Homo sapiens: one gene and its partners. The protein of the gene in region 3 interacts with the protein of the main gene of each other region in a pairwise test. Each region holds a gene or a part of one and is shown on either strand. Other genes may lie near its edges. The genes, in order: NDE1, RFX6, ARNT2 and NPAS2.

What was found.
Region 1: the proteins of ARNT2 (region 3) and NDE1 interact in a two-hybrid assay, tested with the Homo sapiens proteins (one large-scale study listed by BioGRID).
Region 2: the proteins of ARNT2 (region 3) and RFX6 interact in a two-hybrid assay, tested with the Homo sapiens proteins (one large-scale study listed by BioGRID and IntAct).
Region 4: the proteins of ARNT2 (region 3) and NPAS2 interact in a two-hybrid assay, tested with the Homo sapiens proteins (one large-scale study listed by BioGRID and IntAct).

The regions. Positions count from the first base shown.
Region 1 is NC_000016.10:15,689,820-15,698,144, reverse strand, and holds part of NDE1 (nuclear distribution protein nudE homolog 1), read right to left. Parts: intron 7,002-8,325; coding exon 6,822-7,001; intron 6,336-6,821; coding exon of another isoform or gene 6,277-6,335; exon of another isoform or gene 5,979-6,276; intron 3,981-5,978; coding exon 3,889-3,980; intron 2,238-3,888; coding exon of another isoform or gene 2,159-2,237; intron 1,437-2,158; coding exon 1,285-1,436; coding exon of another isoform or gene 1,188-1,284; exon of another isoform or gene 1,020-1,187; intron 1-1,019. UniProt on the Homo sapiens protein: Required for centrosome duplication and formation and function of the mitotic spindle. Essential for the development of the cerebral cortex.
Region 2 is NC_000006.12:116,923,161-116,931,485, reverse strand, and holds part of RFX6 (DNA-binding protein RFX6), read right to left. Parts: coding exon 8,262-8,325; intron 6,818-8,261; coding exon 6,695-6,817; intron 6,034-6,694; coding exon 5,827-6,033; intron 4,460-5,826; coding exon 3,947-4,459; intron 2,728-3,946; coding exon 2,515-2,727; intron 156-2,514; coding exon 1-155. UniProt on the Homo sapiens protein: Transcription factor required to direct islet cell differentiation during endocrine pancreas development. Specifically required for the differentiation of 4 of the 5 islet cell types and for the production of insulin.
Region 3 is NC_000015.10:80,575,271-80,579,998, reverse strand, and holds part of ARNT2 (aryl hydrocarbon receptor nuclear translocator 2), read right to left. Parts: intron 3,134-4,728; coding exon 3,034-3,133; intron 1-3,033. UniProt on the Homo sapiens protein: Transcription factor that plays a role in the development of the hypothalamo-pituitary axis, postnatal brain growth, and visual and renal function. Specifically recognizes the xenobiotic response element (XRE).
Region 4 is NC_000002.12:100,987,639-100,995,963, forward strand, and holds part of NPAS2 (neuronal PAS domain-containing protein 2), read left to right. Parts: intron 1-440; coding exon 441-638; intron 639-2,617; coding exon 2,618-2,808; intron 2,809-3,141; coding exon 3,142-3,234; intron 3,235-5,708; coding exon 5,709-5,889; intron 5,890-6,785; exon of another isoform or gene 6,786-6,942; intron 6,943-7,761; coding exon 7,762-7,944; 3' UTR 7,945-8,157; coding exon of another isoform or gene 8,158-8,178; 3' UTR 8,179-8,325. UniProt on the Homo sapiens protein: Transcriptional activator which forms a core component of the circadian clock.

The DNA of each region.
Region 1 (8,325 bases), on a different chromosome or scaffold from region 3:
GCCAGTTTCTCAAAGGTTCTACAGATTTAAAAAGAAAAAAAAGGGCTGGTTGCAGTGGCTCACGCCTGTAATCCCAGCACTTTGAGAGGCCGAGGTGGGTGGATCACAATGTCACGAGATCAAGACCATCCTAACACAGTGAAACCCCGTCTCGACTAAAAATACAAAAAATTAGCTGGGCATGGTGGCACACGCCTGTAATCCCAGCTACTCAGGAGGCTGAGGCAGGAGAATTGCTTGGACTTGGGAGGCAGAGGTTGCAGTGAGCTGAGATCATGCCACTACACTCCAGCCTAGGCGACAGAGCAAGACGTCTCAAAAAAAAAACAAAACAAAACAAAAAAAAAAACTTCAGGGGAAGCAGAGCCATGACTGATGCTCAATTCCCCAAATAAGGGCTTTATTTTTATTTAACTAATTAATTAACTTTTTGATATGGAGTCTTGCTCTGTCACCCAGGCTGCTGTGCAGAGGCACAATTTTGGCTCACTGCAATCTCTGCCTCCAGGGTTCAAGTGATTCTCCTTCCTCAGCCTCCTGAGTAGCTGGGACTATAGGCACATGCTACCATGCCTGGCTCATTTTTCTATTTTTTTTGGTGGAGATGGGGTTTTACCAATGTTGCCCAGACTGGTTTTGAACTCCTGACCTCAAGTGATCCACCTGCCTTGGCCTCCCAGACTGCTGGGATTACAGGCGAGCGTCACCACACCTGGCCCAAATAAGGGCTTTTATACAGGACATTCTCACAGTGTAACCGTGAGTAGCAGCTGTAGAATCAAATGATAAAAATGACCTTCTTGGCCAGGCATGGTAGCCCACACCTGTCGTCGCAGCACTTTGGGAGGATGAAGGGTGAGGATCACTTGAAGCTCAGAGTTTGAGACCAAACTCGGCAACATGGCAAAACCTGTCTCTAGAAAAAATACAAAAAATTAGCCGAGCACGGTGACACGCACCTGTACTCCCAGCTACTCGGGGGACTGAGGTGGGAGGATCGTTTGAGCTGGGAGGCAGAGGGTGAGCCATGATCCTGCCATCGTATTCTAGCCTAGGTGACAGAGTGAGACCCTGTCTCACAAAACAAGACCCTCTCTCTAGCCCTTTGTTCAAGCCACAAGACACCACCTAATGCTGCCTGCAGGGAGCAGAGGAGAGGATAAGGTTTGCTGAAATAATCCTATAATTTAAAAAGACACATGGCTGTGGGCTGGGGGTGAGTGTCTCTTGCCTGGGGCAGGCGGGTTCTCCCCGCCAGCGAGAGGTTTATTAGAAGGTACTGACCCCTTATCACCCAAAGGCACGCTGGTGCTGCTTGGCCGTCTCTCCCCGCCATCTCTGTTCTTGCTGCTCCGCCCAGAGGCTGGGCCACCTGTTCGGTTTGGGGACTGATCGTACACGAGGTTCCGGCAGGAAGCGAGTTTGGACTCCAGTGCCTGGACAGAAATACACTTTTATCTCTCAAGTTATAGGCAAGGACTATTCTGTCTTACCAGAGCCTGTACAGAAGAACGAACCCCAGACAGTGGTTCTCAAACTGTTGTGCACTGGAATTCCAAGGTGGGACCCCAAGAGGAATCCAACGTATATGCCAGTCTCAGAACCAAGCACCTTAAGTATTTGGGAGCTGGCTGGGCACAATGGCTCACACCTATAATCCCAGCACTCTGGGAGGCCAAGGCAGGAGGATGGCTTGACATCAGGAGTTTGAGACCAGCCTGGGCCACAAAGTAAGATCCCATCTCAGTTTTTTTTTTTGTTTTGTTTTTTACTTTTTTAGACGCTGTGTCACCCAGGCTGGAGTGCACTGGTGAGATCACAGCTCACTGCAGCCTCAACCTCCCAGGCTCAACCAATCCCTCCCACCTCAGCCTCCTGAGCAGCTGGAATTATAGGCATCCGCAATCATGCCCAGTTAATAAAAAAAATTTTTAATGCAAAAAATTTTTTTTAATTACGAAAAATTTTTTAAAATGTTTGGGAGCTGCCTGGAAAAAGATCACGGCTCACTGCAGCCTCAACCAATCCTTCCACCTCAGCCTCCTGAATAGCTAGGACTATGCACAATCATGCTTGGCTTAAAAAAAAAAAAAAAATTCTTTTTTAATTACAAAAAATTTTTTAAAATGGGAGCTTTCTGGAAAAATCACTAACCTACCAATTATCCAACTCCGCTTGTAGGAAGTAGGAAATCCACTTCTGGAATCCTTCACCCTTTGGTTTACCTTGTTAAACCTCTGCAGAATGGCAAGAAGTTTGGTAAGGACTTGGTCTGGCTACAACAGACCCTGAGGAAACCAAAAGGACACTGACAGCACCCCAGGCTTCTCTATACTCCAACTAGGCTAAATACTGAAATGCAGACCTGCTTCTAGAATAGCAAACCAGACAGCCAAAAACCAGAAGTAAAAACAAAAGAAATGAGTTGCAAGCTTCTATTAAGTTGTAGCTACAAATACACTGTGTACAGTGACAACTTGGTAGGAGTTAAATTATGTGGCCTTCTAGGCATCATTTTTAAAAATAAACTACAAAGAATACCTATGTTTTTACTTAAGCACAAAAGGATCCCTCCCTGTAATTAACATAAAAGCTGAAAGGCCAAATTCTTTGCCCTAGGCTTTCAAGATTTTTTTTTTTTTTTTTTTTGAGACCAAGTCTCACTTTGTCACCCAGCGGTGCGATCTCAGCTCACTGCAACCTCCGCCTCCCGGATTCAAACAATTTTCCTGCATAAGCCTCTCAAGTAGCTGGGATCGCAGGTGCCCACCACCATTCCTGGCTAATTTTTGTATTTTTAGTAGAGATGGGGTTTCACCATGTTGGCCAGGCTGGTCTTGAATTCCTGACTTCAGGTGATCCACCCATCTCGGTCTCCCAAAGTGTCAAAATTCACTTAAACCCCAAGAAACAAACCAAAAAAAAAAAAAAAAAAAAAAAAGGTGGCAGTTTTTTTCTCTTCTGAGACAACGTCGTGCTGTCACCCAGGATGGAGTGCAGTGTTGGAATCTCAGCTCACTCAGCCTCAACCTCCCAGGCTGAAGCAATCCTCCCACCTCTCAGCCTCCTGAGTAGCTGGGACCACCAGTGTACACCATCAGGCCTGGCTAATTTTTGCATTCTTGTAGAGGCCAAGTCGGGGCAGGGGGTTTCACCATGTTGCCCGGGCTGGTGTCAGACTCCTGAGCTCAAGTAATCTCCCACCTTGGCCTCCCAAAGCACTGGGATTACAGGTATGAGCACCCGGCCAAAAGAGAAGGCAGTTTCCAAGTGCTCCTTAATTTTTCGAGTTAAGGAAAAAACACACATATCACCCTAATTTCCCAAATTTCCTAGAGGAAAAACGGTAAAAGGAAAGAGACATACATAGGGTTCAGAGCAGGGCTTCGAGTCAGAGCTCTGAGTGTCTGGCAGTAACTCCCACAGGAAGCTCTAATGATTCCCAGGGATGCTAAAGGAGCAGCCACACCTAAAACTCACCACACTGCTATGAAAGGGGCTGGACGCATTGGCTCATGCCTGTAATCCCAGAACTTTGGGAGGCCAACCTGGGAGGATCACTTGAGGCCAGGAGTTTAAGACCAGCCTGGGCAACACAGCGATACCCACATTACTACAAAAAAATGAAAGTATCAGCCAGGCATAGTGGCGCACACCTGTGGTCCAAGCTCCTCGGGAAGCTAAGGTGAGAGGATCGCTTGAACCCAGGATTTTGAGGCTGCAGTGAGTTGTGATCATACCACTACACTCCAGCCTGAGCAACAGAGCAAGACCCTGTCTCTAAAAAAAAAGAAAAAAAGAAGAGAGGGAAGGAACTAGATCAACCCCCTTCACACATCCTGAAAGACAGGCAGGAAGGCACCAAACGCCAGGAAAGTGTGGTCTTACCCCGACTTTCCGCAGTAGGTCTCCCACAATGTTGAGGGCTGATATCCGGGCCGCAGGTGTGAGGGGGGTCCCCCCGGTGGAGTCGTCCAGGCCTGGGTGTGCAAAGGGAAGAGCATGTAACTCACCAACCTATAGTCATGTCTGTGCGTTAACATCGCTAGATCCAAAACCACGGGACAGGAGGGACACTGACGCCTTTCCTCGGATCCCAAAAGCTACCCTATTTCTTTCCGTAGTTAACCGCATCACACACCCAAGGCCCGTATGACAACCAATTTTTCAAGTCCTTGTGATGACTGCAACAAATACTTATTTTTACATGTTAGTCTTGCTCTGTCACCCGGACTGGAGTGCGGTGATGTGATCTCAGCTCACTGCAACCTCCGCCTCCCAGGTTCAAGCGATTCTCCTGCCTTGGCCTCTTGAGTAGCTGGGATTATAGCCATGTGCCACCACACCCGGCTAATTTTTGTATTTTTAGTAGAGACAGAGTTCCATCACGTTGTCCAGGCTGGTCTCGAACTCTTGACCTCAAATGATCTGCCCGCCTTGGCCTCCAAAAGTGCTGGGATTACGGGCGTGAGCCACCATGCCTGGCCTTTAACAAATTTTTTTTTTAATAGAGACAGGGTCTCACTATGTTGCCCAGGCTGATCATGAACTCCTAGTTTCAAGCGATCCTCCCACCTTGGCCGCCCAAAGGGCTGGTATTTACAGGCATGAGCCACCGTGCCCAGCCACATTAGTCTTTTTAAACAAACCCAAAACAAATCCTTTTGAAATTGTAGAAAATCCATATAGTTAATTAACATAATGGCATCTGTGATAGATACAAGAACTATAGACAGGATGATCCAGCTTTACAAGGGTCCCGCTCTGCAGAGCCTCTCTTCTCCAAGTGGGGTCCATGCACCAGCAGCACATGAGAACTGTTAGAAATGCAGAATCTCTCGGCCAGGCACAGTAGCTCACACCTGTAATCCCAGTGCTTTCAGAGGCCGAGGCAGTTCGATCAGTTGAGGTCAGGAGTTCAAGACCAGCCTGGCCAACATGGCAAAATCTTGTTTCTACTAAAAATACAAAATTAGCTGGGCATGGTAACAGGTGCCTGCCTGTAATCCCAGCTACTCGGGAGGCTGAGGCATGAGAATCGCTTGAATCCAGGAGGCAGAGGCTGCAGTGAGCCAAGATCAATGCCGCTGCACTCCAGCCTGGCCGACAGAGCAAGACTTTGTCTCAAAAAAAAAAAAAAAGAGAGAAAGAAATTTCAGGCCCCACCCAAGACCCACTTGATCTGAGGTACATTCTACCAAGATCCCCAGGTAAGCTACATGCATATTGAAGTGTGGAAACATAGCCAGGCATGGAGTTGCATGCCTCTAGTCCCAGCTACTCAGGAGGCTGAGGCAGGAGGATCACTGGAGCCCAGGAGTTGGAGGCTGCAGTGAGCTATGATTGCACCACTGCACTCCAGCCTGGGCCACAGACCAAGACTGTGTCTCTAAAAACAACAATGAAATAAAGTATGCAAAATGGCTCTAGACTGGGGCTAGGCACAGTGACTCATACATGTAATACCACCACTTTCAGGGGCTGAGGCAGGCAGATCACCTGAGGTCAGTAGTTTGAGACCAGCCCGGCCAACATGGTGAAACCCCATCTCTACTAAAAATACAAGATTAGCCAGGCATGGTGGTGGGCACCTGTAATTCAAGCTTACTCAGGAGGCTGAGGCAGGAGAATCACTTGAACCTGGGAGGAGGGGGTTACAGCGAGCCAATATCGCACCATTGCACTCCAGCCTGGGCAACAGAGCAAAACTCCATCTCAACAAAACTAAACAGAAGGGCTCTGCACCGGAATTCTAGAAGTCTCACTGGTCTCTTCATGCCCAGGGGACAAGCTAAGGGATAAGGTAGTAGATGGTAGGGTAAGCCCTGGAGCCTGCCTGCCTGGGTCTGAATCCCAAACCATCTGCCATTCAATTGCTTCATGACTCTGCTTAACTCAGAGCCTCACTTTCATCAAACGGGGACAGCACCTGCATCCTGGGCCTGCGGCGAAGGCTGCAGGCTGGCCAGCACACACTGAGCACTCCTTAACTGTCTGTTATTAATATCTGCTGTAAAAGGCCTGATCGGAAGCTGTCAGCAGAGGGGCTGGGGTGAGAACTGAGATTCTTTTTTTCTGCCCATGCAGCACACGTTACGCTGAGTCTAGCTCTCGGTGGATGTATTACTAAACCCACAGAACGCTTTTTACTTTTTTGTATTTGGTCAGTGACATTTCAAATTTGGGAGGTTTTATATTCAACAAGAGGATTTTTGACCAGGCGCGGTGGCTCACACCTGTAATCCCAGCACTTTGGGATCAGCCGAGGTGGGCGGATCACTTGAGTCCAGGAATTTGATACCAGCCTGGGCGACATGGCAAGACTGTGTCTCCACCTAAAATACAAAAGTTAGCCAGGTGCCTTTAGTCCCAGCTACTCCGGAGGATGAGGTGGGAGAATCACTTGAGCCCACGATGAAGAGGTTGCAGTGAGCCAAGATCACGTCACTACACTCCAGCCTGGGCAACAGAGTGAGATCCTGTCTCAAAAAAAAAAACCCAACAAAAAAAAAGAGGATTTCTGGCTTTGAAGAATGGAAAAAGCTGCAGATGAAGGGCCAATCCTCGTAGCTGCAGAGTGGCAGCCACCCGCTCTGGGTGGGGTTTCCATTTCATCAGACTCCACTACTGCCTCTTACCCAGTCCTCACTGATCTCAATGCCCATCCCCAAGAACATCCCAGTCTACTCTCTGCTCAAAGCCTGAGAGCAAATCAGGCTCTGAGCCTGATGCAAATCATCACACCCCCAGGACCCACCCCAGATTCTTACCCAGAAACACTTTGTGAACCGAGAAAATCCTGCAATTCCCACTCCCCTTACCACGTCTGAAGCTCCCAGGTGTGTTTAAACTTGAGCTGGGTCCTCGGTGAGCAATGGGCGTGGACGGCACGGAGCCCGTGGCCTGCACAGCTGTGTCTGTCCTCTCAGCTTCCACTGAGCTGGGCATGGGGGTCCTGGGTTTCTCCTGCTTCTGCTGCACGGCCAGTTCCTGCCGCAAATCTGTGCCAGAAAAAGGATTCAGGAATTCAAGTCCTCAGCCAGGCGCAGTGGCTCATGTTTATAATGCCAGCACTTTGGGAGGCCAAGGCAGGTGGATCGCCTGAGGTCAGGAGTTCGAGACCAGCCTGACCAACATGGTGAAACCTCATCTCTATTGAAAATACAAAAATTAGCCCAGCATGGTAGTAGGCACCTGTAATCTCAGCTACTCAGGAGGATGAGGCATGAGAATCATTTGAACCTGGGAGGCCAGGGTGGCAGTGAGCTGAGATTGCTCCAGCGCACTCCAGTCTGGGTGACAAGAGCAAGACTACGTCTCAAAAAACAAAAAGGGAATTTAAGTCCTTGCTTAGGGTTGGTGGGGTGCAGGGAGAGAGGTTCAACAGTAGATACCAGTCAGAAAAAAGACCTACTGGGGTGAAACACTCCAGGTAGAAACCCCAAATAAAGGGAAACCCACAGGACCTTGCCTAGCAGACTTGGAACTCTACAGGATGTTTCTCTTGACTAACAAAATGGTTTCAGATTTTTAAAAAGCTATGACAGTGACACACTAATGCTTTTATTATTGAAAAAACAATTCCAACATAGCAGTGTATTTAGAACACTAAATGAAAATATGCCCGGGAGCAGTGACTCATGCCTGTAATCCCAGCACTTTGGGAGGCTGAGGTGTAAGAATCACATTAATCCAGTAAGTCGAGGCTGCAGTAAGCCATGATCATACCACTTCAGCCTGGGCGAGAGTGAGACCTCTGGCTCAAAAAAAAAAAAAAAAAAAAAAAAAAAAGAAAAAAAAAAAAAAAGGCCAGTTGCACTGGCTCAAGCCTATAATCCCAGCACTCTGAGAGGTCGAGATGGGAGGATTGCTTGAGGTCAGGAATTTTCAGGCCAACATGGCAAAACCCCGTCTCTATTAAAAATACAAAAAATTAGCCATGCGTGGTGGTGAGCGCCTGTAGTCCCAGCTGCTTGGGAGGCTGAGGCAAGACAATCGCTTGAGCCTGGGGGACAAGCAGTGAGTGCAGTGAGCTGAGATCACGCCACTGCACTCCAGCCTGTGTGACAGAGCAAGACTGTCTCAAAAATAAATAAAGTATGCTTTCCAGACTATCCCCAAATGCTCCTCCTCACTCATCATCACCATAACATGTGGGAGAGCTTTTCAACCATTGTTCTCTGAATTTTTTTTTTTTTTTTTTTTTGAGATGGAGTTTCACTCTCTTGCCCGGGCTTAAGTGCAGTGGCACAGTCTCGGCTCACTGTAAATCTGCCTCCCGGGTTCAAGTGATTCTCCTGCCTCAGCCTCCCAAGTAGCTGGGAT
Region 2 (8,325 bases), on a different chromosome or scaffold from region 3:
TCCCATGAACACAGTGTTGATAGGTGGTAAAGAGGACACCATTTCTCTACTGCTTGTTCCATGGGAGTCCAGGGTTTCTTGAGCTGGATACTGGTTGGAAGTTCCATACATACATTGGGATGAGGAAGAAGGAATTGGGGTTTGCAAACTGGAAGCTGTAAGGGAAAATATAATCAGCAATTGAAAATTGATTGACATTTTCTTTTCTCTGCAAATGCCACTCATTTTAATACCCTGTATTTATTTTTGCACTTAGCACACATACCTATTCTAAATTTGAGTCTGTATGGTTTACCAGAGCAATCATTTTTTCTTCCATTTGTTCCCACTTGCTAGTCTCCCAGAAATTATTTCCTCTACATATTTCACAAAGAAAACTCCATTTCAACTTAAGTGCTACCGCCAAAATATATCCCCCAATCAACCTCCTCTTTCCATCTGCACTTTCACGGTTGTAGTTCAAACCACCATCTTTTCTCTCCTGGACCAACACAGCAGCCTCCTGACTGGTCCCATGATCTCCACCTTTGTTTCACCCACTCACCTTCCCGAGAGCAACCAGAATGATATTGCTGAAGAGTAGATCAAACTTTCACTCGTCTCAAATGCCATAGTGGCTTCCGATACCCTTGGAACATGAACCAAGCATCTTACCCTATGTAGATGGGCCCCTGATTTTTTATTTATTTTGCTCTACTCTCTCCTTCATTCAACATGCTTAAGACACACTGGCCTGCTCTCTGCCCATTGATTTTTTCAAATTTATTCTGATTTCAGCGGTTCTGCATTCACTGTTTCTTCTGCCTGGAACTCCTCCCTCAGATCTTCACATCTTTGCCTCCTTCTCATCACTCAGCTTTCAACTCAAATGTTTCTGCCTCAGGATTCCTTTCTCAGCTGTCCTACCGAAAGCAGCTCCTCCTTTACTGTCTGTCATTTTACTCTATTTAATCAGGTTCAGAGTACTTGACATTATCTTTTTAATGCATTTGCTCATGTATTTATTGCCTTACTGTCCCTCTACTAGAATGTAAACTTCTTACAGGCAAGAACTATGGCCTGATCACCACCATATCCTCACATCTAGAATGGGGTCTGGCTCCTAGTCGGTTCTCAATAAAATTCATTAACTGGCTCACTAGCCCTGTATTTCTCTCATATATGGTTGCTGCCTTCTTATTGCTGACATGACGTGCTCTCTGTCTAAGAACCAGGCTTTATACTTAAGAAATAGTTGAACTCAATTCTCCTTGCACTACTTATCCACTTATTCTATCCCCTCATTTTACCCTGCAGCACACTTTGTAATCTACTTGTAAGCCAGCTCTGATAAACTAAAGCTTAGACTCCACCCTACTCTTAACCTATGTTTCGTCAAAGCTTCCACTATCTCTTCAGGTAAACAGAACTAATAGTAACAATAGCAACACAGTACATTTTAGTCTCATGGTGAGAAAACTTCCTGAAGTGGAATTTTCTGCTTCATTAGAGTAACCTAGAAGCAATGACCATTTGCAGATAGCAGAAGATGAGCTGCTAGATTCTGCTCAGGGAGCATGTGTGACAGTGACAGGAAGAGAAGGAGTACTTCCTATTGAATTATTGGGAAGGTACACTGAGTGAGGAGAGATGAAATTGATTTCATTTTCCCTTATGCTCTGGTTGCGTGTCAATGCCCTCTACTTATGCTAGTCTGAAATCAATCTCATTGGAAGACTTTAACCATCTCATATAAATATTAACACTCTGCTTTGATACTTAGTGAATATATACTTGCCCTGTGAAATCTTATTAGTATTTTTAGAAACTAAATCTATAGTGACTAAATCTATGTTATTACTAATAACATACTAATTATTATTGCAGAATTTCTTCATAGATGAGGATTAAGAAATGTAACCTGGTTGGAAGAAGATTCCAGGAGGCTTCACGGCAAGCACACGTTTTTCTTATTTTTACTTACATGATATGTTAGAGAGCAATAAAAATGGCAACATTTTCTACAGAGGTGTTGAATCACATTTTACATAAGAATGAGAAAATGCTAGTAGCACCCATCACAGGACACCAGTTTTTTTTAATCTTGGAGTGATTTTTGGATACTGATGGAGATCATGAGGCCTAAAGATATCTCTTGGCACTACAACTGGGTCCAACACTAATCAAGAGTGAGAAAAGGATATTATTACTGCCCTTTTAAAACTTACAGTTTTAGACTGCATTTGACAGGTCATATTAATCTTTTGCATACTTAATAGATACCAGCTATTTTTTTTGTAAAAAGTAACAGATCTAGCAGTAGGTTGCATAATAGAGATATACAGAATAAGAAATGAAAAACTGTTACTAACTGTGTAGTCAGATACAAAAAATATAACTTTAGATCCAAGGTAATAAATCAACCGTGGAAACATGCTTGCTCAGTTCACCTCAGCATATCTCCCTCAAGTAATGTTGCATACCTGAGGTTAACAACTTCTTAAAATGTTTTCAAGAACTGCTAAAATAATTTACCTAGGACTGGAGTTCGACATGCAACTGGAGATGATGTGTCTGTGTAAAACGAGCTGGTCTGTTTTCTACCACTGTCATCTAAAATGTTAAGTGGATCGTGGATGTCACTGTAGGGGGGCAGTGAACGAATGCTGCTGATGACAGAAACGTGCTGATTCACCATTGATCCGAGCCTGTGAGACTCTGGGTAGTTTATGTTGCTTCCATAGTATCCTGTAACAGAAAATGTTGAGAATTTGCTGTTAACTTACTACAAAGAACTTTCAGGAAGGAAAAAAGTGACAAAGTAATGAGGTGACGTCCTAAAGATATCAAACTGTAAGTATTACATGTGTATCTATACATGCTACAGAACTGGATTTGTGCTTGTACATGGATAAGGTTTACTGTGCTGTTTTTTGTGTTTTTTAACACATAAGAATTGTAGCATCATACATAATTTAATACAATAATTATAGCATAATACATAATTTAAGACATAAGAATTGTATTAACTTTAAGACCAGATTACACTTCTGTCAGATTTCCCTTATCTAAATTAACAAGATCTACCTTTGAAGGAAAAAAAGCACTATCGCCTGTCACAAAAATACTACTTTCATGTATAGATGCATGTTTAGGGAAGACAAAGACTGGCCTACACTTAGGAGAAAGACACCAAAGAAGCCTACACACAAAGCCTATTTTGGTGACTCAAGGTCACAGGTCTCTCTAATTCCCTTAACTTCCTATTTTTATTGGTCTGTTTTGTTCCCAATCTTTAAAATCTGCTTTTAGTTATCAGGAAGAAATATTATCCACTAAAAATGTTTTCAAAAGACAGAACATTCTTCTTTGGGGCTATTAAGGTAGGTCTCAAACATATGATTTAACTATCTTTTTTTTTTTTTTAACATATGCGGTATTTAGGAGGACAGCTTTAGGCCGGGGGTGTTGGCTCACACCTTTGGGAGGCACCTCAGCATTTTGGGAAGCCAAGGAGAGAGGATTGCTTAAAGTTGGTAGTTTGAGACCAGCCTGGGCAAACATAGTGAGACTTTGTCTCTAGAAAAAATTTAAAATATAGACAGGGATGGTGATGCATGCCTGTAGTCCCAGCTACTTGGGAAGCTGAGATAGGAGGATTGCTTGAGCTAGGGGTTTGAGGCTGCAGTGAATCATGATCCTGCCAAGCACTCCAGCCTGGGCTACAGCATAAGACCTTGTCTCAAAAAAAAAAAAAAAAAAAGGAAGAAGGGCAACTTTAGGAAAGCCACAAAAATTAGGAAATATATATGTATGTGACAGAAATCAGCTCCAAATGTCTAAGATTCCATGATCTTTGGAAGCCTTAAATGAAAGGACATGCTAGTCAGCAGAGGTGGAACGCAATGTCTGATTTTGCCTCATTGCCATCTCAAAAACCAAGAAAAATTCTTTTAAATATCAATACCATTTGGTGAATTAGGAGGCAGTGTTGCTCCTTGGCAGCTGGCAGCTCCTGTGTTGCTCAAGAAATTGAAGCTTCCTGTATTTAAAAACTGCATATTGTGTGAATCCTGGGCTTGCAGGGATGGGCCATAGCTAGACGGTGGCCGGGAGTTATATGGAGACCCCGCACAGCTGCCACTGAAGAAGTCTCTTGAAAGCTGCTGTTCAGTCCAAGCCATGCATCGACCATGCTCGGTGTGATGAGGATAGAGTCCTGATGTGGAGTGGGGCTGTGCCCTAAACACAGTCTGGTAGTTAGAGCTGGTGCTATAAAAGTCATGATTGGCTTGAGGGAGAGTGGGATAAATGGGCTCTGGGTATGTGGAGCAGTGTGATGGAGCTGACAGTACTGGGCCCACACTTGGGGGCCTCCCTGCCATTGGTCCTTGGTTAATGACACTTCCTCGGCTTGCCATGGCTGGAGAAATGGGTGGTGTCATCAGATGACCAGCAATCTGTGAAAGCTCCATTTGACCTGGAAAAAATCACCAGAACATTCCTTTAGTGTCATATTAAAGTAGATGAGCTCACATCTTTAAAAAATATTCAAAAGATTTATTAATGTATTGTTTTCCAGCTTGCTTCATTCCTGCCCTCCAAAAATAACTAAACTGAAAAGCACCAAAAATCCAGAATTTAAAAAATATAATCACAACACATGTATATATCACAACAGTGGAGACGTGGATTTGGTGACTACAGAGGAAAGTCTGCGATGGCTTCATGGTTTCTCCACAGGTAGCATGGGGAGGACATGTGTGTCTGCTGCTCATATTTCCCCATAATTAAAAAATTAGCTGATTGTTAAACTGTTTGATTTTTAGGGTAAAAAGAAAAAGTCACTAATGTCAAAATGGCCATGGCTTCAAAGCAGTCAATTCAAAATGTCATGCAAACACCTCTTATAAGTAATGTGATTTATGAATGCCACCAACTCTCTGGGCCGCCAGTGTTCCATTGGTAGAAATGGACTCCTGAACTATAAGGCTCTTCTAGGTTTAAAATTCTGTATATCAAATGAAGTAATGTATATAAAAAGATTTCAAAAAAGACACAAGGCAATAAGCAGATTTAAAATATTCCCGAGTAGCTAGTTCAAGCCACCAAATATTCATGTTGACACAAAGAGAACCTTAGACCAAAAGGGAGAATTATTGTAACGATTATCCTAAAATGGCCGAATCCAGTTTTTTTGTTTGTTTGTTTGCTTTTTTGATATGGAGCTTCACTCTCGTCACCCAGCTGGAGTGTAATGGCCTGATCTCAGCTCACTGCAAGGTCCGCCTCCTGGGTTCAAGAGAGAGTACAGGCGCCTGCCACCAAGCCCGGCTAATTTTTTGTATGTTTAGTAGAGACGGGGTTTTGCCATGTTGGGCAGGCTGGTCTCAAACTCCTGACCTCAGGTGCTCTGCTCGCCTCGGCCTCCCAAAATGCTGAGATTACAGGCATGAGCCACCATACCCAGCCCGAAACTACTTTTTAAGGGAGGAGAAATAAAGTCTCCTCAAAATCCAGAAATAAGCAACCCATTTTTTTGATCTTCAAAGCATCTTAAGAATTTTATGTATACCTCATCTAATTATTTCTTCCACTAAATTAACTAATTATTCATACTTCTAATATAATTTATGGAGTGTGTCAAGACATGATACCTGTGTTAATAACAGTATTATTACCATTGCTGAAAATCACAAAAATATTATAAATCTTTATTAAAACTCAGTTAAGATCATCCTTTTTTATTGTTGGAATTCCTGGACTGGAAGTTATGAGTTTTAAGAAAAATGAAGCAACAGGCTTCTCTGAGATGTGCTGGAGCCTAAGCAGTTCTCTTTAGCGTACCTGTGAGCGGCATGTTGTCTGTGTTCCCAGCAGGGAACTGGTGCAGAGCAGGGCCTAGGCCTCCAGGTTGACTGGATGGCAGAGGGAGATAGGTTGTCTCCACGTGGCTTTCATTCTTCACAGCGTCGCTGGAAACCATGCTCCCTTTATTACGGTTGGCCAGAAAGCATGAACTCGGAGAAGCAGTGAAAGCAGCTTTACTCGCATCTGGAAAGAGTTTTTAAAATGGGAAATTTGAGATTTTTTCTCACATTCCTCGTAGATAAACCCAAGTAAAAAGAAAATGAAAATGTTTCATTGTTGAGTATTTAATCTGGAAACTACTAAGCAATGTTTCCCATGGGAAGTGAGGTTGGCAGACCTTTGCTCTTGACAGTGATGCTAGGTTTTTTTTAGCTGCATATTTGCGGATGTGGATGTAGATAAGGAGCACTAAATAATCCAGTTTGGAGTGAAGTCTTCAAAATGCAAGTTGCCCTATCCTGAATAGATGTGTTTCCTTCCTTCTCTAAACTCCTATAGAACTTATTTTTACACCACTTACATATGTAGTATACCACATGTGTCTTGAATTACAGTTATTTTTTGTATTATAGTCACTTCTCCAACTTCACCTTAATTCCCAGAAATTAAGATCACCAATTTTGTATACTTCAGAGTTTCCAGTAAAGTACTTTTGACTACATAGCAATGAATGAAAGAAAAGTAGTGCTCCAATAGTGTGACTGTATGGTGAGAATTAGTAATGACATGTTTGGAGAAAAACTCTGAGATTATGATAAACCCACTTAATATCTGAACTTATAAATTCTTGAACTTAAGATTAAAACAAAGAAATATGCAAAACAAAACAGTTATTTTAAGTTACCTGAATTCTTCATATACTTGTCCAATAAATTCTGTAACTCCTGCTCTTTGTCATTATTAAACTGGGTCTCCATGGCCAGGAGAATGTATTCATCGAGAAGCATTCGAATCAAATGAAAAGAACCTTGTTTATGGATGGAGAATGAGGAGAGGACAGTGTGAAATGTAAAAAGGGGAGAGAAAGAGAAGGAAAGGGAAAGAGAAGTCAGTTATCTTTGTGACCATCTCGCAACACTTTACAAGGAGCAACTGAAATAAACAAATACTTGTTGGACTTTAAATGACCTGCTAAGACCAACATGCTTAACTTGGATCTCTAATCTTTCTGTGTATTGCCTGCCCTGCTCACTGTGTGTACTGTCCTGCCAGCTCTTTGGCCACTAATTACATCAAAGGAAAATACGGATGAAAGTGAGACATGCTTTATGCTTTAAGAGGGCACACATTGGAGTGTGATAAGCTTCAACTTGGGGAGAATGAGCTCTACTCTGCTCTATTTCTGTTTACTTTGTACTAAATAATTAGACAATGGCCAACATGGTCTGAAAAAAGTCAAGTAAAGAGATATCTTTCTAGCCTGAAACAAAATATTCTTAGATTTGGCAAAAACTAAAAGAGTAATTTTCAAGTGAAATATGTTCTGGAAAACTAAAACTTCTTTTAACTATTCAATAGATTTTCCAACAAAAGTATTTTTCGTAGTAAGGCCAGGCTTCAATGCTGTATATTTTATAAAACTTTAAATATGGGAAGTCTATTTCAAATAATAGACAATGTGTTTTGTTTATTCTTCAATACAAATTCACTGATTTTATTTAATTCTATAGAACATTAAATAAAAACAATTTAGTTAATTGTAATCTCTTTCATAATGTGAAGATTTCCTGAAATGCAGCTACCAAATGCAGAGTTACTACTCATGAGTTAACATTATAACTATAAAATAGGAGTCTCAGGAATTCTAAGGAAAAAGAAGGCATTCAATTTTATAAAAAGCTAACTTAACCCTATTTGTCTCCCAAGTCATATAGAACAGGAAAGATGGGTCAGAAACATGACAGTGTGTCTTCTAAGCTGTTTTTTGATTCCTGGAGTGCAGTTATATGGGTGCTCAGAAAAGCTGCAGAAATTTGCCGTATTGCAATGAATAATAACTTTGGAAAATAATGTCTTAATTATCATTTGTTTAACAAAGAAAATTTATCCAAGCACTGATGGAATGTAATGATAATAGCTGCTATGCATTAAGCATTTCCTGAGTGCTAGGCAATTTGTTTTTATATACATCATCTCACCAAAGTACCTATACAACCCTTCGAAGAGAATATTCTTCCCCTTCTTCAATGAGCAGATTGGCCCATAGCCAGAGACAATCATTGTTAGGATTTAATCCTGCTTATGGTCTGACTCCAAAACCCAGGCTCATAAATACCATTTTCTCATAGCTCCATATTCAGATACAGTTTAAGAAGTGATGATGTAACATGTTTAAAAATTGACAGGAACTGTGACTGAGGAACAAATTATATAATTCATGTAAGAACAGTTTTATAATGCACGTATGTTACCAAAACTGGATGCATTGTTCAAGGTGAGATTATGCATTACTCGAGCACCAAAAAAACTCCACTT
Region 3 (4,728 bases):
GGGGCACCTATGAGGCTTAAGGATTCAGGAAATAGGTTGCAGGCTGTCAGTTTTAAACGGAAAGAAAAGCTTCTCAATGAAAACCTGCTGGATGGGGCCTAGTCCTGCTACCCAGAGTTTACCCCTCCCACCTTCAGTTCACCTTCGACTTAACTCAGTTTGTCTTTATTAGGCCCCTGCTGTGTGCCGTGCTCTCTGCATGGCCTTTGCAGGCTAAATCTCTGACCCTGCTTAGCTCCTCGGCAGGCACTGTCTGTACCACCAGGCGCTTCTTCCAGGAGATTTTCCAGGCTATGTCGATTACATGAGAAGCTCATCAAAGACTAAAAGGCTGGGGGCAGACTTTTACTTTGTTTCAGGCCCCTCCTCCTGCCTCCCTGGGACTAGCTCAGCATGCAGGGCAGTGCGCTGGGTGCCCATGAATCAGTCAAGTAGGGCAGAATGGGGCTCATCACAGAAGGCTTTGGTAGATTTTCAGCTCCGTGTTAAAAAAAAGGCAAGCCAGAGATCAGCAGAGATTGGGTAAAATTTTACTATTGTATTCTAATAAGTTTCCTATGCTATCTGATCCCTTTTAAAATAGGGAGAAACCAAGAATGTCAGAGACATTCTTGAGCTGATCATTGTAAAACAAGTTCAGTGGCTTATATAAAGGGGACATCATTTCTGTCTTCATACAATCAATTCCTCATTTAACATAAGGGCTCCTTTCCCATTCTCCTTCCTGATGAAAGTATTGCTTCAGAGGACATTTTCTGGTCACTATTGTCTAGTAGGACCCTCTCCACAGCCCCCAGCCCTTGGTGTCCTCCCCAAAACACTGACTGATGAGGGCCGCTACAGCGTAGACGGTCCTAGGAAAGGCGCCTTGGCAGAAAGGGATGGGCTTCTTGGGGCAAAGCGCCAGCCCTTGTGCACAGCCCTCCCTGGGGGCCTCTGGGCTACAGCTGCCTGCCTTAGTGTGGACAGGCAGGGGCCAAAACTGGCGGGACCAGAGAGGGAGGACTGTGGGTGAGGATGCACTTCAGGTGCCAGCAACACCATTCTGCAAGCGGCCCAGGATTCCCTATGGCTGTATTGGGCCCCAGAGTCCTTCATCCCACAGCCTACCCCATCCCAAGCCAGCTCAGATCCTTCGGATATACAGGAAATTCTGCCCATTCCACAGGCTTTAGCCCTAACAGGCATCCTTTAATTAACTCAGTCATTTATTCATTCATTTTACAGACTAGTACTCAGCAAGTGCCTTTTCTATGCCAGGCTCTGCACAGGTGTTCGGACGTTCCTTGGATTCCTTCCCCACACTGCCAGCTGCCCCAAACCTGCTTTTCCTTCCCCATCACTCATCACTGCCCTGTGCACCCTACATTTTTGTTTCTATGACAACAGCGTTACCCAGGCTCTGCACCTCACGCTGGACTGTCTGCCCTGAGCCCTGTCTGCAGCTTCACTCTTCTCCCAAAGGTCATCAGTGATGGTGTCCTCCTCCTCAGCATGGTCCCCACGGCTGCTGCTGCAGACACAGCTCAGGGCAGACAGTCCAGTGTGAGGTGCAGAGCCTGTGTGAGGCCGTTGTCATAGAACAACGTGGTCATCCTCTGTTTCTCCCATTAGTGAGGCCTCCTCCAACAACACCTCCTCCAAGGCTTCACTCAGCACACCCCTCAGGCCCTTGCACCCCTGCCCTGGTCAGGAGGCAGAACCTGACTTTTGCTTTCAGGCCTAGCTGAAGAGTCAGCCAGACCTTCTCCGGTCATGCCACCTTGGGCTGTCCCCTTGCCTTTGAACTGTCCCCTCCTTACCTCCTGCTGCTGTGCTCTCCCTGATCCCCTTTGTCCAGAGTGGAGGACAAGCAGCAAGTGTCACAAGGACCCCATGAACATGAGCACCCAGGCAGGGCTGGCACAGGGCTTGGCATCAACGGAGATCGGTCAGTGCGTGCTGAGTAGCTGAGTAACTCAGCAGCCAAGAGAAGTCTGGAGGGCTTGACTATTGCTCAGCAGAGCAGCGTGACCTGCGGTGATGATGGTTAGGGACTGCTCACAGAGGGCTGCCATCTTGTCTGCTGTCCCCAGACCAGAGGCCCTGCCTGCAGCCAGGGCTCCCCAGAGCCTCAGAGCAGTGTGCAATTCAGCAAGACTCAGCTGCAGGCGTGGCCAGAGCCCCTGCAATGTCTGCTAATCTGTCTCCAGGAGGTCTGTCCTTGAACCAGTGTGGAAGCAAAATCCTCATTCCTTGTGGCTAGGGCAGTCCCGTGGCAGGGGCCTCTCTCTGGGTGGCCGGCCCCACCTGCCCTCCTGGCCTCTGCATCTGGAAGCTCTGCTTAGGGTCTGGCCAACCTCACTGGAGAAGCCCTGCCCTGCTGGGCATGAGGAACTTTAGGGTGTCTGGTGGGCACAGGTGAGTGCCCACATACCCTCCCCAAGAGCTGCCAGCCTCTTCTCTGACCGTTCTTCCCAGTTGATGCTTCTGTCTCCCCAGAAGTCAGTGGAGCCAGGCCTTGCCTCCAGTGATGATGTCAGGGCTTCCTCAGTGACCTACCAGATGCCCTTGATGCTAAGAACCAACCCTTGGGAAGGTTGGACACCCTGCCTGAAGCCTTGAGTGCCCTTTAGGATGAGGCTCAGACGTGGTGGGCTGAGCTGACCAGTCTTCCTTGGATTTGGCTGTAGCCTCTGGGCACCAGATGACAGGATACTTCCTGCTACCTTGTCAGCTGTTCCCAGCTCCAGCTCACTTGGGTCCTGGCTAGAGGGAACTCACTCCCTTCTCCCTGGCAATCACTGCCACAGAACACAGTGGCTGGTGCTGTTCACATCCAAGAAAGAGTAACTGACACCAGGAATCTATGGCAACTCATAGAGGGCTCACAGAGCAGAAGCAGAGCCACCAGAATCCTCAGTTTAGTCCAAGGCCTGAGCGCCAGTAACCACTAACTCATGCTTACAGCCCACAGAGCTGTGCTCTGAGACCCAGGGCTTTCTTGGTGAGGGAGCATCTTCCCACGCCATTGTCCCCCTCGCTGGCACATACCTGAAGGCCTTCCCGGAGTGTCCAGAGGGAAATGGGCTTCCTTGGGAGTAGATCTGCTGGGTTCCTGCTGCAGAGGCTGAGCTCATCATCTTCTTCTCCGCTAGGAAAACCAGAGCAGGAGTCACATGCGAAGGTTCCCTGCTCTGCAGACCACAGAGGAGGCTGCCCCAAGAAGAGGTGCAGGGGTGGGCGTGGGAACGGGAGGACACAAGTCAGGGCAGCCCGCCTGCACGCAATCTTCTCAGCCTTGCCTCTGCCTCCTCATCTCCCCTGGAGCCTCCCTGGCATATGAAGGCACTGGGCTGTTGTTCTTGACCCCTAGGCTAGGCCACAGGCTGCTTGACGGCAAGGCTTTTTTGGAGAGTGGGGAAGATTAAAAGAATTAATGAGGCTAGGCATGGTGGCTTGCACCTGTAATCCCAGCATTTTGGGAGGCTGAGGCAGGCGGATCACTTGAGGTCAGGAGTTCAAAACCAGCCTGGCCAACATGGTGAAACCTTGTCTCCACTAAAAATACAAAAATTAGCCAGGCATGGTGGCAGCCATCTGTAGTTCCAGCTACTCGGGAGGCTGAGGCAGGAGAATCGCTTGAGCCCAGGAGGCGGAGGCTGCAGTGAGCTGAGATCACGCCACTGCACTCCAGCCTGGGCGACAGAGCAAGACTCCACCTCAAAAAAAAAAAATTAATGAGAGTTCTTTCTCAGACATTATTTTATCCAATCTTTCCAACCCTGCGGTGTAGGGATTCCAAGTCCTCTAGTTCTGGGTGAGGAAGCACAGGGTAACAGCGAAGAGGATGGACTCTTATCTCAGCTCTCTGGGTCTGAATCCCATCTCCAAGGTAAGAGGTGCAACCTTGGACTGTTACTTAATCATCCCCTGCCTCAGTTTCCCAACAGAAAGAAGGCGAGAATAAAAGTATCTTCCTCAGAAGGCTGTAGTGGCAATTCAGTGAGTTAACCTAAGTGCTTACGACAGTGCCTGATTAAGGGAGCAAACAGAAACTAAAAGTTTGCTATCGTTTGTTACAGATGAGAAAAGTGAGTTGTAGCTTGTCCAAAGTCATGAGCCGGCGAGGGAGGGCTCAAGGCGTGAATGCAAGCCCAGTGCTCTTCCCACTCTGGAACTCAGCTACCCCTGGCCACCCTCACCCAGCAGGTGCCGCAGCAGGTGATGTCCAGGGAACAGCCCTGGATCTGTGTGCCTTGACGTTCCACTAGGGTTTCTTTGAGAGACTGAGCTCCTCTAACACTGAAAACACTCAGCCCCTGGCCAGCAGGTGCAATAATGCATGATTTTCTGCCACCGCAGAATGGTGAGCAGAGTCGTCTCACCCACAGGCTCACCCACAGCCACACGGCTGAAGAAATGGGCTCAAGACCCAGCTGGCTGTTTAGAATTTTACACGAGAGAGAAGGTGCTTTGTATGGTGGTTTGAGAAACAGGAGTGGGAACACGAGTGGTGGCAGGGTGCTAGACAGCAGGCTCCAATGTGACAGTTCTCCCTCCTTCGGTCATCGAGGGTGCCCAGGGCTCTCTGCAGTGCCCTCCCAGTGCCCCAGAATCTTCAAATTTCTACCCATCTCATTCCTACAATCCCTAACATGTTCACCCGCAATGCGATATTGGAATAAAGGAAATAAAGTTTAGTTACCATACCCTGGGTAACTGGTATACAGAGGCAAGGCCAGGAGT
Region 4 (8,325 bases), on a different chromosome or scaffold from region 3:
GCCCATGCCACAGGTGAGCCATCCCTCTGCCCCTATATCATGAGGCAATATTATCATGACTGCATCATGCATTCCACTCACCAGGTATTTCTCCCTTCTAGGAAGAAGCTGGTAAGCCAACCTCGACTCTAAACAAGTACATCACATTATTTAGAGAACATCTGGGTCTAAACAGCTTTCACATTGTTAGGCCTCAGTCACTTGCCTGTAACCTTCATGAAGGCAGAGAGAGTGTCTCTCCAGCCCATGGCTCTGTGGCCAGTGCCTGACACTGAGCTTGGGGCATCACAGGTGCTCCATGTCCACCAGTGGAGTAAATGAACTATTTCTAGGCAGCTCAGAGCAAGAAAGTTCTTACTGGCACAGGGAATGCAAAGGAGGTGCACACTGGTGAGGTACCCATGACCCCAACTTCACAGGCATTTCTATTCTGCTCCCAGATGTTCCTGCAGCAGCCAGCTGTATCCCTGAGCTTCAGCAGCACCCAGCGACCTGAGGCTCAGCAGCAGCTACAGCAAAGGTCAGCTGCAGTGACTCAGCCCCAGCTCGGGGCGGGCCCCCAACTTCCAGGGCAGATCTCCTCTGCCCAGGTCACAAGCCAGCACCTGCTCAGAGAATCAAGTGTGATATCAACCCAGGTAAATGTGCTCCTTGCCAGCTTCACTCCTTGCCTCTAGAGCAGACACCCTCTTGCAGTTTGGGACATACTTGATTCCTGCAGCCTACGTGAACTGAGGCCTACTGCCCTGTTCCGTTATGGACTGAGGGTAGATTTGGGAGTGAGCCTTCTTTTCCTTCTTCTGTTAAAGTCACTTTGAAACCCCAAGTTGTATTGGCTTCCTTCTGTGTTTTATAAATGTCCACCTCAGTCCCTTGCTCTCGTGCTTAAAGATATCACTCGGCTGAAATGTTCACCTTTGATGCTGACTTAGGGTTGGAGGCAGATATGGCCATCCCAGAGACCCACTGGCAGCTGAATGTCCCAACACTCAACGTCCATGGTCCCCGCCATCTACTCTGGTTTTAACCATTACCCACATGAGCAGCCACTGCTGTTCACTGTCCCTTGCCCCAGGTGCCCCCTGCTCCTCCAGGCGCCCCCTGCTCCTCCAGGCCCCCACTGCTCCTCCAGGTCTCCCTGCTCCTCCAGGCCCCCATTGCTCCTCCAGGTCTCCCTGCTCCTCCAGGTCCCCCTGCTCCTCCAGGCCCCCACTGCTCCTCCAGGCCTCTCTGCTCCTCCAGGCGCCCCCTGCCCCTCCAGGCCCCCACTGTTCCTCCAGGTCCCCCTGCTCCTCCAGGCCTCCCTGTTCCTCCAGGCGCCCCCTGCTCCTCCAGGCCCCCCTGCTCCTCCAGGCCCCCACTGCTCCTCCAGGCCCCCCAGACTCTTTGCCAAACCCTTGTAGCCATTTCCACCTATTCCAAGCCACCAGTGACCTTGCAATTGGACAAAATCGCCAGCAGATAAATGGCACTCAAATGGAATGGAATTCAGAAGTCTGGAGCAGGGCTTCTGGAGGATAACAGATGGGAAGGCAGCCTTTCCTCCAGCCTCACATTCCCATGCCCTCGTGGCTTTGGTAAAGTCAGCTGAGCTCCTGGAATTCACCAAGACCCAGGGGAACAATGATGAGCAAGAGTTGTCCTGGGCCTCGAGGAGCCTGTAGTCCAGTAGAGAATCTGGGAACTTAGATAACCTGCAGTACAATACAGATAAACACACATATGGAAGTGTTTAGGCCATCTTTCTTCAAATGTAAGGGTTTTGCTTGAAAATACAGCCTTTTGATTTAAAAGGTCATCAGAAAAATAGGTGAGAAGAGCTAAGAAAATTTTGGAAAAGAGAAAACTGAGGAAGGATTTATACTATCTGATATTGGAAAATTTTGTAAAAACTAAGAATGAGAGCACTGTGTTATCGGATGAATGGACAATCAGTGAAATAGACAGAAAACCCAAAGCAGGTGCAAGCCCACTTCCTCACTCATTTATTATTTCACTCAGCTCCCTGCGTGCCAGGCACTAAATTCTGAGCACTGAGGGAAAGCAGTGAACAAAAAAGAAAAAAGAATTTCTGTTCCAAGTGAGGAGAGAGACGAACATGTGAAAATTATAGTATGTGCAATGGTACAGGAATGCTGGTGAGGGCCAGGAATGGCTGGAGGTGTAAAGAGGTAGCCAGGTAAGGCCTTTTGAAGAAGATAATATTTGAGTCAAGACCTGAGGGGGTGAAAGAATGAGCCATGTCAATGTCAGGGGAAGAGCATTCTACAGAGCAGTCAGCTCGTGCAAAGGCCCTAGGGCAGGAGTAGGCCTGGTGAGTTGGAGAAACAGCCAGGAGGGCCATGTGTCTGCAGTAGAATTTGAAGCAGAAAGTAGTTCAGTTCAAGGCACATTTGCTACTTGCCTGCCTAGAGTCCGGCACTGTCCTAGGCCCAAGGGATTCAAATACAATCCAATGGGGAAGACAGTCACAGATCAAAGTAATTCAGTAGTTGGGAGGTTCTGATTTAGAGGAAAGGCAAGGGTAGGTAGAAGGAGGAGACACTGGGAGGTTTCCTGGAGAGATGGCCCAGGGTTGAGTCCAAGTCTTACCTTTCTCATTGAAATGATGCTCCAGGGTCCAAAGCCAATGAGAAGCTCACAGCTAATGCAGAGCAGCGGCCGCTCTGGAAGCAGCCTAGTGTCCCCGTTCAGCAGCGCCACAGCTGCGCTCCCGCCAAGTCTGAATCTGACCACACCTGCTTCCACCTCCCAGGATGCCAGCCAGTGCCAGCCCAGCCCAGACTTCAGCCATGATCGGCAGCTCAGGTACGAGACTGCCCTTGTTTAAAGGATAACCCAGGCATCATTTTACCCCATTCATTTCAGCTCTACTTTCTGCTTTAGACGGAGGCAGAGTTCAGACAGATTCTAAAGTGTCCACAGTTGATCTCAGCTAAGGAAGCAGAGGACAGGGCTTGGGATCCTGAGGTCCAGGGGAGGTTACCCGCTGCGTCCATCATCCTCAGAGAATGAAGCCAGGAGAGTGGGGATTAGAGTCAACCATAAAGGGTCCAGCCAGGCTGAGCAAGTGCTGCCACGACCAGTGGGTCTGTGGTTCAGGTGCTGATCAGTTTCCTATTTCCCCACCTCTGCTTAAAGGCTGTTGCTGAGCCAGCCCATCCAGCCCATGATGCCCGGGTCCTGTGACGCAAGGCAGCCCTCGGAAGTCAGCAGGACGGGACGGCAAGTCAAGTACGTGGACCCTGGCGGGAGGCAGGAGGCAAGCGCTGGTGGAATGGTTCCAGGCTGGCCAGACTCACCCGCCTGGGCCAGCAGCACTCACATGAGCCTTGCGCTAAAGGCAAGGTCTGAGTGTGCCCACAGCTGTGAAGGGGACGCTGCCCCTCAGCTTTTCTTCTACCGTGTCCCAATTAAGCAGAAAAAACTCAGCGCTCCATGCTTACAGCAGCACTGAATGAAACAATTCACACCCCACCGTTTGCCATCATCTTCCGACTTCCTTACACCTGTAAAGCCCTCTAAAGCCCTCACCCCTGGAGACATCCCCCTTCCCAAGGACCCTCCCCCAGGCTCCAGCTGACATGCCGCAGGCACACTTGGTGCTCCGTGCTTCTGGCACCGTGCTCGGGCCCGTCTCTCCCAGACAAGCAGCCCCCTCTCTGCCTTCCCCAGCCTCCTCTCCACTAGCACCGGTAGGACCAGAAGCAGCTTTACTCAGCTACTTAATTACTAGGGACAACGGTTACTGGAGACACGGGGAATAGTTTAAAAGCTGCTGGAAAACAGTTTCTAGCCCTTGGGAATGAGGCAGAAATAGAGCTATCACACAGACATCTCCTTCATGTTAACACTGGTTGACTTTGTGTCCAGAACTAACCAGGACAGTGCTAGCCGATCAGGCCTGGGATGCCCTCATGTAGAAGCCTCGCAGGCACCCCCAGGCCCCTCTCCCTAGAAGTCCTTCTTCTGTGCCCTCCTTCAGCCAGGACAGAGAGTAACGGCAGATGGTTACTGCCTTTCTGAGGGTCAGGGTCTGTATGTTCATTATTTAATTTTATCCCGATAAAAACCCTAGGGTGTAGGCACATGCTCGGTCTTTTTTTGTTTGTTTGTTTGTTTTTTAAACCAGTGAAGAGGCTGGGCTTTAAAGGGGTTAGATTACATTCTCGAAGGCCACACAGTGCAGATGGTGGGGCTGGAGGCCAGCTAACTCCAGGCCACGGGCCCCTTGGGCTCCCTGAATCTTCAAAGTCCACCTTGTTGGCCCTGTCTGGGGTCTCCCTATGCCTCAGGATAACTTTCTAGGCAGCCTCTGCCCCTGAGACTTTCTGGCCCTCCCTTTGGTCACAGGAGGGTAAGGAGGGACCTGCAGGTTGTGGGGAGCCATCTGTAAAGTTCCGTTCATGTCTATCATTAGGTGGGAGGAAGTGGGCTGGTTTTGCTTCTGGATTTTACCTGTTCTTCCTAAATGATCCAAATAAGTGGAAATAGGCTGGGCGCAGTGGCTCATGCCTGTAATCCCAACACTTTGGGAGGCCAAGGCGGGCGGATCACCTGAGGTCAGAAGTTCAAGACCAGTCTGGCCAACATGGTGAAACCCCCATCTCTACTAAAAATACAAAAATTAGCCGGGTGTGGTGGCACGTGCCTGTAATCCCAGCTACTCAGGAGGCTGAGGCAGGAGAATCACTTGAACTTCAGTGCTCTGTTGGTGGGAACTGTCCAGTGCTGCAGCCACTGTGTTAAATGTCGGCTCTGTGTCCCCACCAAAATCTCTTGTTGAATTGTAATCCCTAGTGTTGGAGGTGTGGCCTGGTGGGAGGTGATTGATCATGGGTGGGGACTTCCCCCTTGCTATTCTTGTGATAGAGTTCTCCCTAGATCTGTTTGTTTAAAAGTGTGTAGCCCCTCCCCCTCGTTCTCGATCTCCTCCCGGCCATGTGAAGTTACTTCCTGGTTTTTTGATAATCACCATTGTAATGAGTGTGAAGGGACATCTCATTTTGGTTTTGATCTGCTTTGCCCTAATGGAATGGCTACTGATGCTGAGTATGTTTTCATGTGTGTGTTGGCCATTTCCAGGTTCTCTTTGGAGAAATGTCAGCCCCAATGCCCATTTTTTGATTGGGTTGTGTGGGTGTCTTGTTGTGGAGTTGTAGGCATTCTTTATATATTCTGTTATCGGTCTCTTATTAGATATGTGATGTGCAAATATCTTCCCCTACTCTGTGGGCTGCCTTTTCCCTCTGTTGATAGTGTTGATAGTGTCTTTTGATGGACAAAAGTTTCTTTTTTTTTTTTGCTTTGAGACGGAGTCTCACTCTGTCGCCCAGGCTGGAGTGCAGTGGTGTGATCTCGGCTCACTACAGTCTCCACCTCCCGGGTTCAAGCTATTCTCCTGCCTCAGCCTCCCAAGTAGCTGGGACTACAGGTGCCCAACATGACACCTGGCTAATTTTTATTTATATTTTTAGTAGAGACGGGGGTTTCACCATATTGGCCAGGCTGATCTCGATCTCCTGACCTTGTGATCCGCCTGCCTCGGCCTCCCAAAGTGCTGGGATTACAGGCATGAGCCACCGCGCCTGGCCAAAAGTTTCTTATGAAGTCCAACTTATTTGTTTTTTCTTTGTTGCTCGTGCTTTTGGTGTCGTATCAATACTGCTTTCTTAAAGGACCTGTTTTCTCCTTCCCACGTGAAACAGGTACGCCCAGAGCCAGACCGTGTTTCAAAATCCAGACGCACACCCCGCCAACAGCAGCAGCGCCCCGATGCCCGTCCTGCTGATGGGGCAGGCGGTGCTCCACCCCAGCTTCCCTGCCTCCCAACCATCGCCCCTGCAGCCTGCACAGGCCCGGCAGCAGCCACCGCAGCACTACCTGCAGGTGGGTGCCACGGCCCAGGGGGCCCCCGTGCAGGCCTGGGAGCCGGGCCACGCTCCACACCCGAAGTCTCAGAGATATTTTATTCCCTTGCTTTCAAGGTTGTTCTATCCCTAGTATAGAAGTAAGCCCCAGAAAGATTGTTATTTGATTGTTTTTCATGCTTAAAGTTTATGAAGTCTATGTCTACAGAGTACATGAAATTACGAGTCGGCTATTATGCCTTATGTGGTTATGTGCTAAAAAGGTTCTTTTTTAAAAAAGTAGTTTCTACTCAAGGATTTGCATCTTGATATGTTCACAGTTTTTAGAGCAAAAGTCGAAAAACATTGATGACTATGTTGGACTTTTCAGTGTGTTTATAAAGTCCTATATAAACATAAAGTTAAATCACATTTAGTTAAAGATCCATTAACCTGCCTTCATAAATACAGTGATGTGTGAAATTGGGCTTGCCAGGAAAATTTGGAGCTCATTTACATGTGGTCACTACTTCGAAGGCAAAAATTACTTCAAGCAAGTGCCAAGTATGTCAAAAGCAGGGAGGGTGAGAGCCACTGGTCCGCAGGTTCACGTGGGAGCCACACGTCTGCGTCTGCCAAGCTGCAGAAGGGCCTGGCCTTCCCTCACCCATGTGCAGGGTGCCCCTCTTCACCCCAGCCCTTCCCTGTCCTGGGGGGGCTTCCTCCCTGGCCTGCAGCCCCACCTGCACCTGCAAAGCCATGGAGAATGAGCAGTAGCTGAGACCTCTTGAGTACTGTAGATAGTGATGAAGATAGCTGTCCTTGAAGTTCTAGAACGTAATTTAATTCCAGTGCCGCTAAGCCATCTGTGCTATAATTTTCAGATCTCCCTGACCCCACACATAGTGGGAGTCAACTCAGACTTTGGCTTTGCAGATCTTGTCAGTTCTCGAGACCCAGAAGTGATTTTGGATGGGAAATGAGCAACAGACAAGTTTGCATGCACCTGTTGCAGACAAGATGCAGGCTATGAATACAGAGAGCGCTTCGGCCCACTCACTGCCCTTAGGGGCTTGGGGTGGGGTGCAGAGAGGTGGGTTAGCACAGAATGCAGTCAGGCTCGGATTTGGGAACAGTGGGAGTGCTGTGGTGGGGAAGCCTTTGTGGAGGAAGGGACTTGAGGAGAGGGAGGGCTCAGAAGGCACCCACTGCAGAGTCTGATGTCCAGGAAATGCCCGAAATGTGGGTGAGGGTGAAGATAAAGGGACAGTGTTCCAGCCAGACAGCCTGAGCAAAAGTTCAGGGCAGCTGTGCCTGGGCAGCTTTGAGAGCAGGGGGGTGCTGGGTTACTTGCAGGAGGAGATTTCATGGAAGGGAATAGTGGGTGATAAGACTGAAGTTTCCAAAGTCAGGCTTTGGTCAGTCAAAGCTTCTAAACTTCCAATCAAGATGCTCCTAGTAGGTGCTGGTGAATCTGGAGGTAGCTACGGGATCAGGGACCAGCAGTGAAAAGTGTACAAACTGTATGTGTGTTTGGATTCTGCCCTGTCAACTACCTGCATGTGGCCTCAGGTTCCATCATCCAAAAACATTGTGGCTACATGTAGATCATGTGCACGTGTTTACGAAACCATTCCCCATAGCCATAGCCACAGGCCTCAGTCGATTGGGCCAGAAGGTGCCCCCACTATTGGCGGAGAACTTAGCTTCAGAATTCACCCTAAGGTTCCCTTAGTCCCCATCCCCACCACACCCCCAGGTCTTGCCAGAGCCACCTCTCCCCACATGACCCCCCAAGAAAGACAGCCCTGTAGTCTAACTCAACCTGCAGCATGCCCCGCACTGCCTTGTAAGACAGTTGAGGAGCGGACATCAGAACCACCTCTGAAGCCCTTTGTTCTTTTTTTTCTAGGTACAGGCACCAACCTCTTTGCACAGTGAGCAGCAGGACTCGCTACTTCTCTCCACCTACTCACAACAGCCAGGGACCCTGGGCTACCCCCAACCACCCCCAGCACAGCCCCAGCCCCTACGTCCTCCCCGAAGGGTCAGCAGTCTGTCTGAGTCGTCAGGCCTCCAGCAGCCGCCCCGATAATGCCCCGGCACTGAAGTCGGGACACAATCAGCTTTAACCAATGGATGAGGGGGGTGGCCACAGGAGATGGGGAGAGGAGTCTGAACTAAACCCCTGGCTTTTGTGCACACTGCATACGTTTCAGAACTCCTGGATGGTAACCATCTCTGGAGTGCAGCGCTTGCTGCAGTGGAAATGATCAGGAATACTGACCGTGTTTCTCTTGCCTCCGAGGTTCTTGGGCACACTCTATAGCCATACTGGACAGGAACCAGGTGCCCCGTGTAGGCATCGTCGGTCGGTTTGCCGTCAGAGATGGCGCATCTCGCTGCATCCCCCGAGAGTACACCGGTTGCTCTAGCCACCTGCGGCCCGCCCATCTGCGCTAGCTGGCCTTCACGC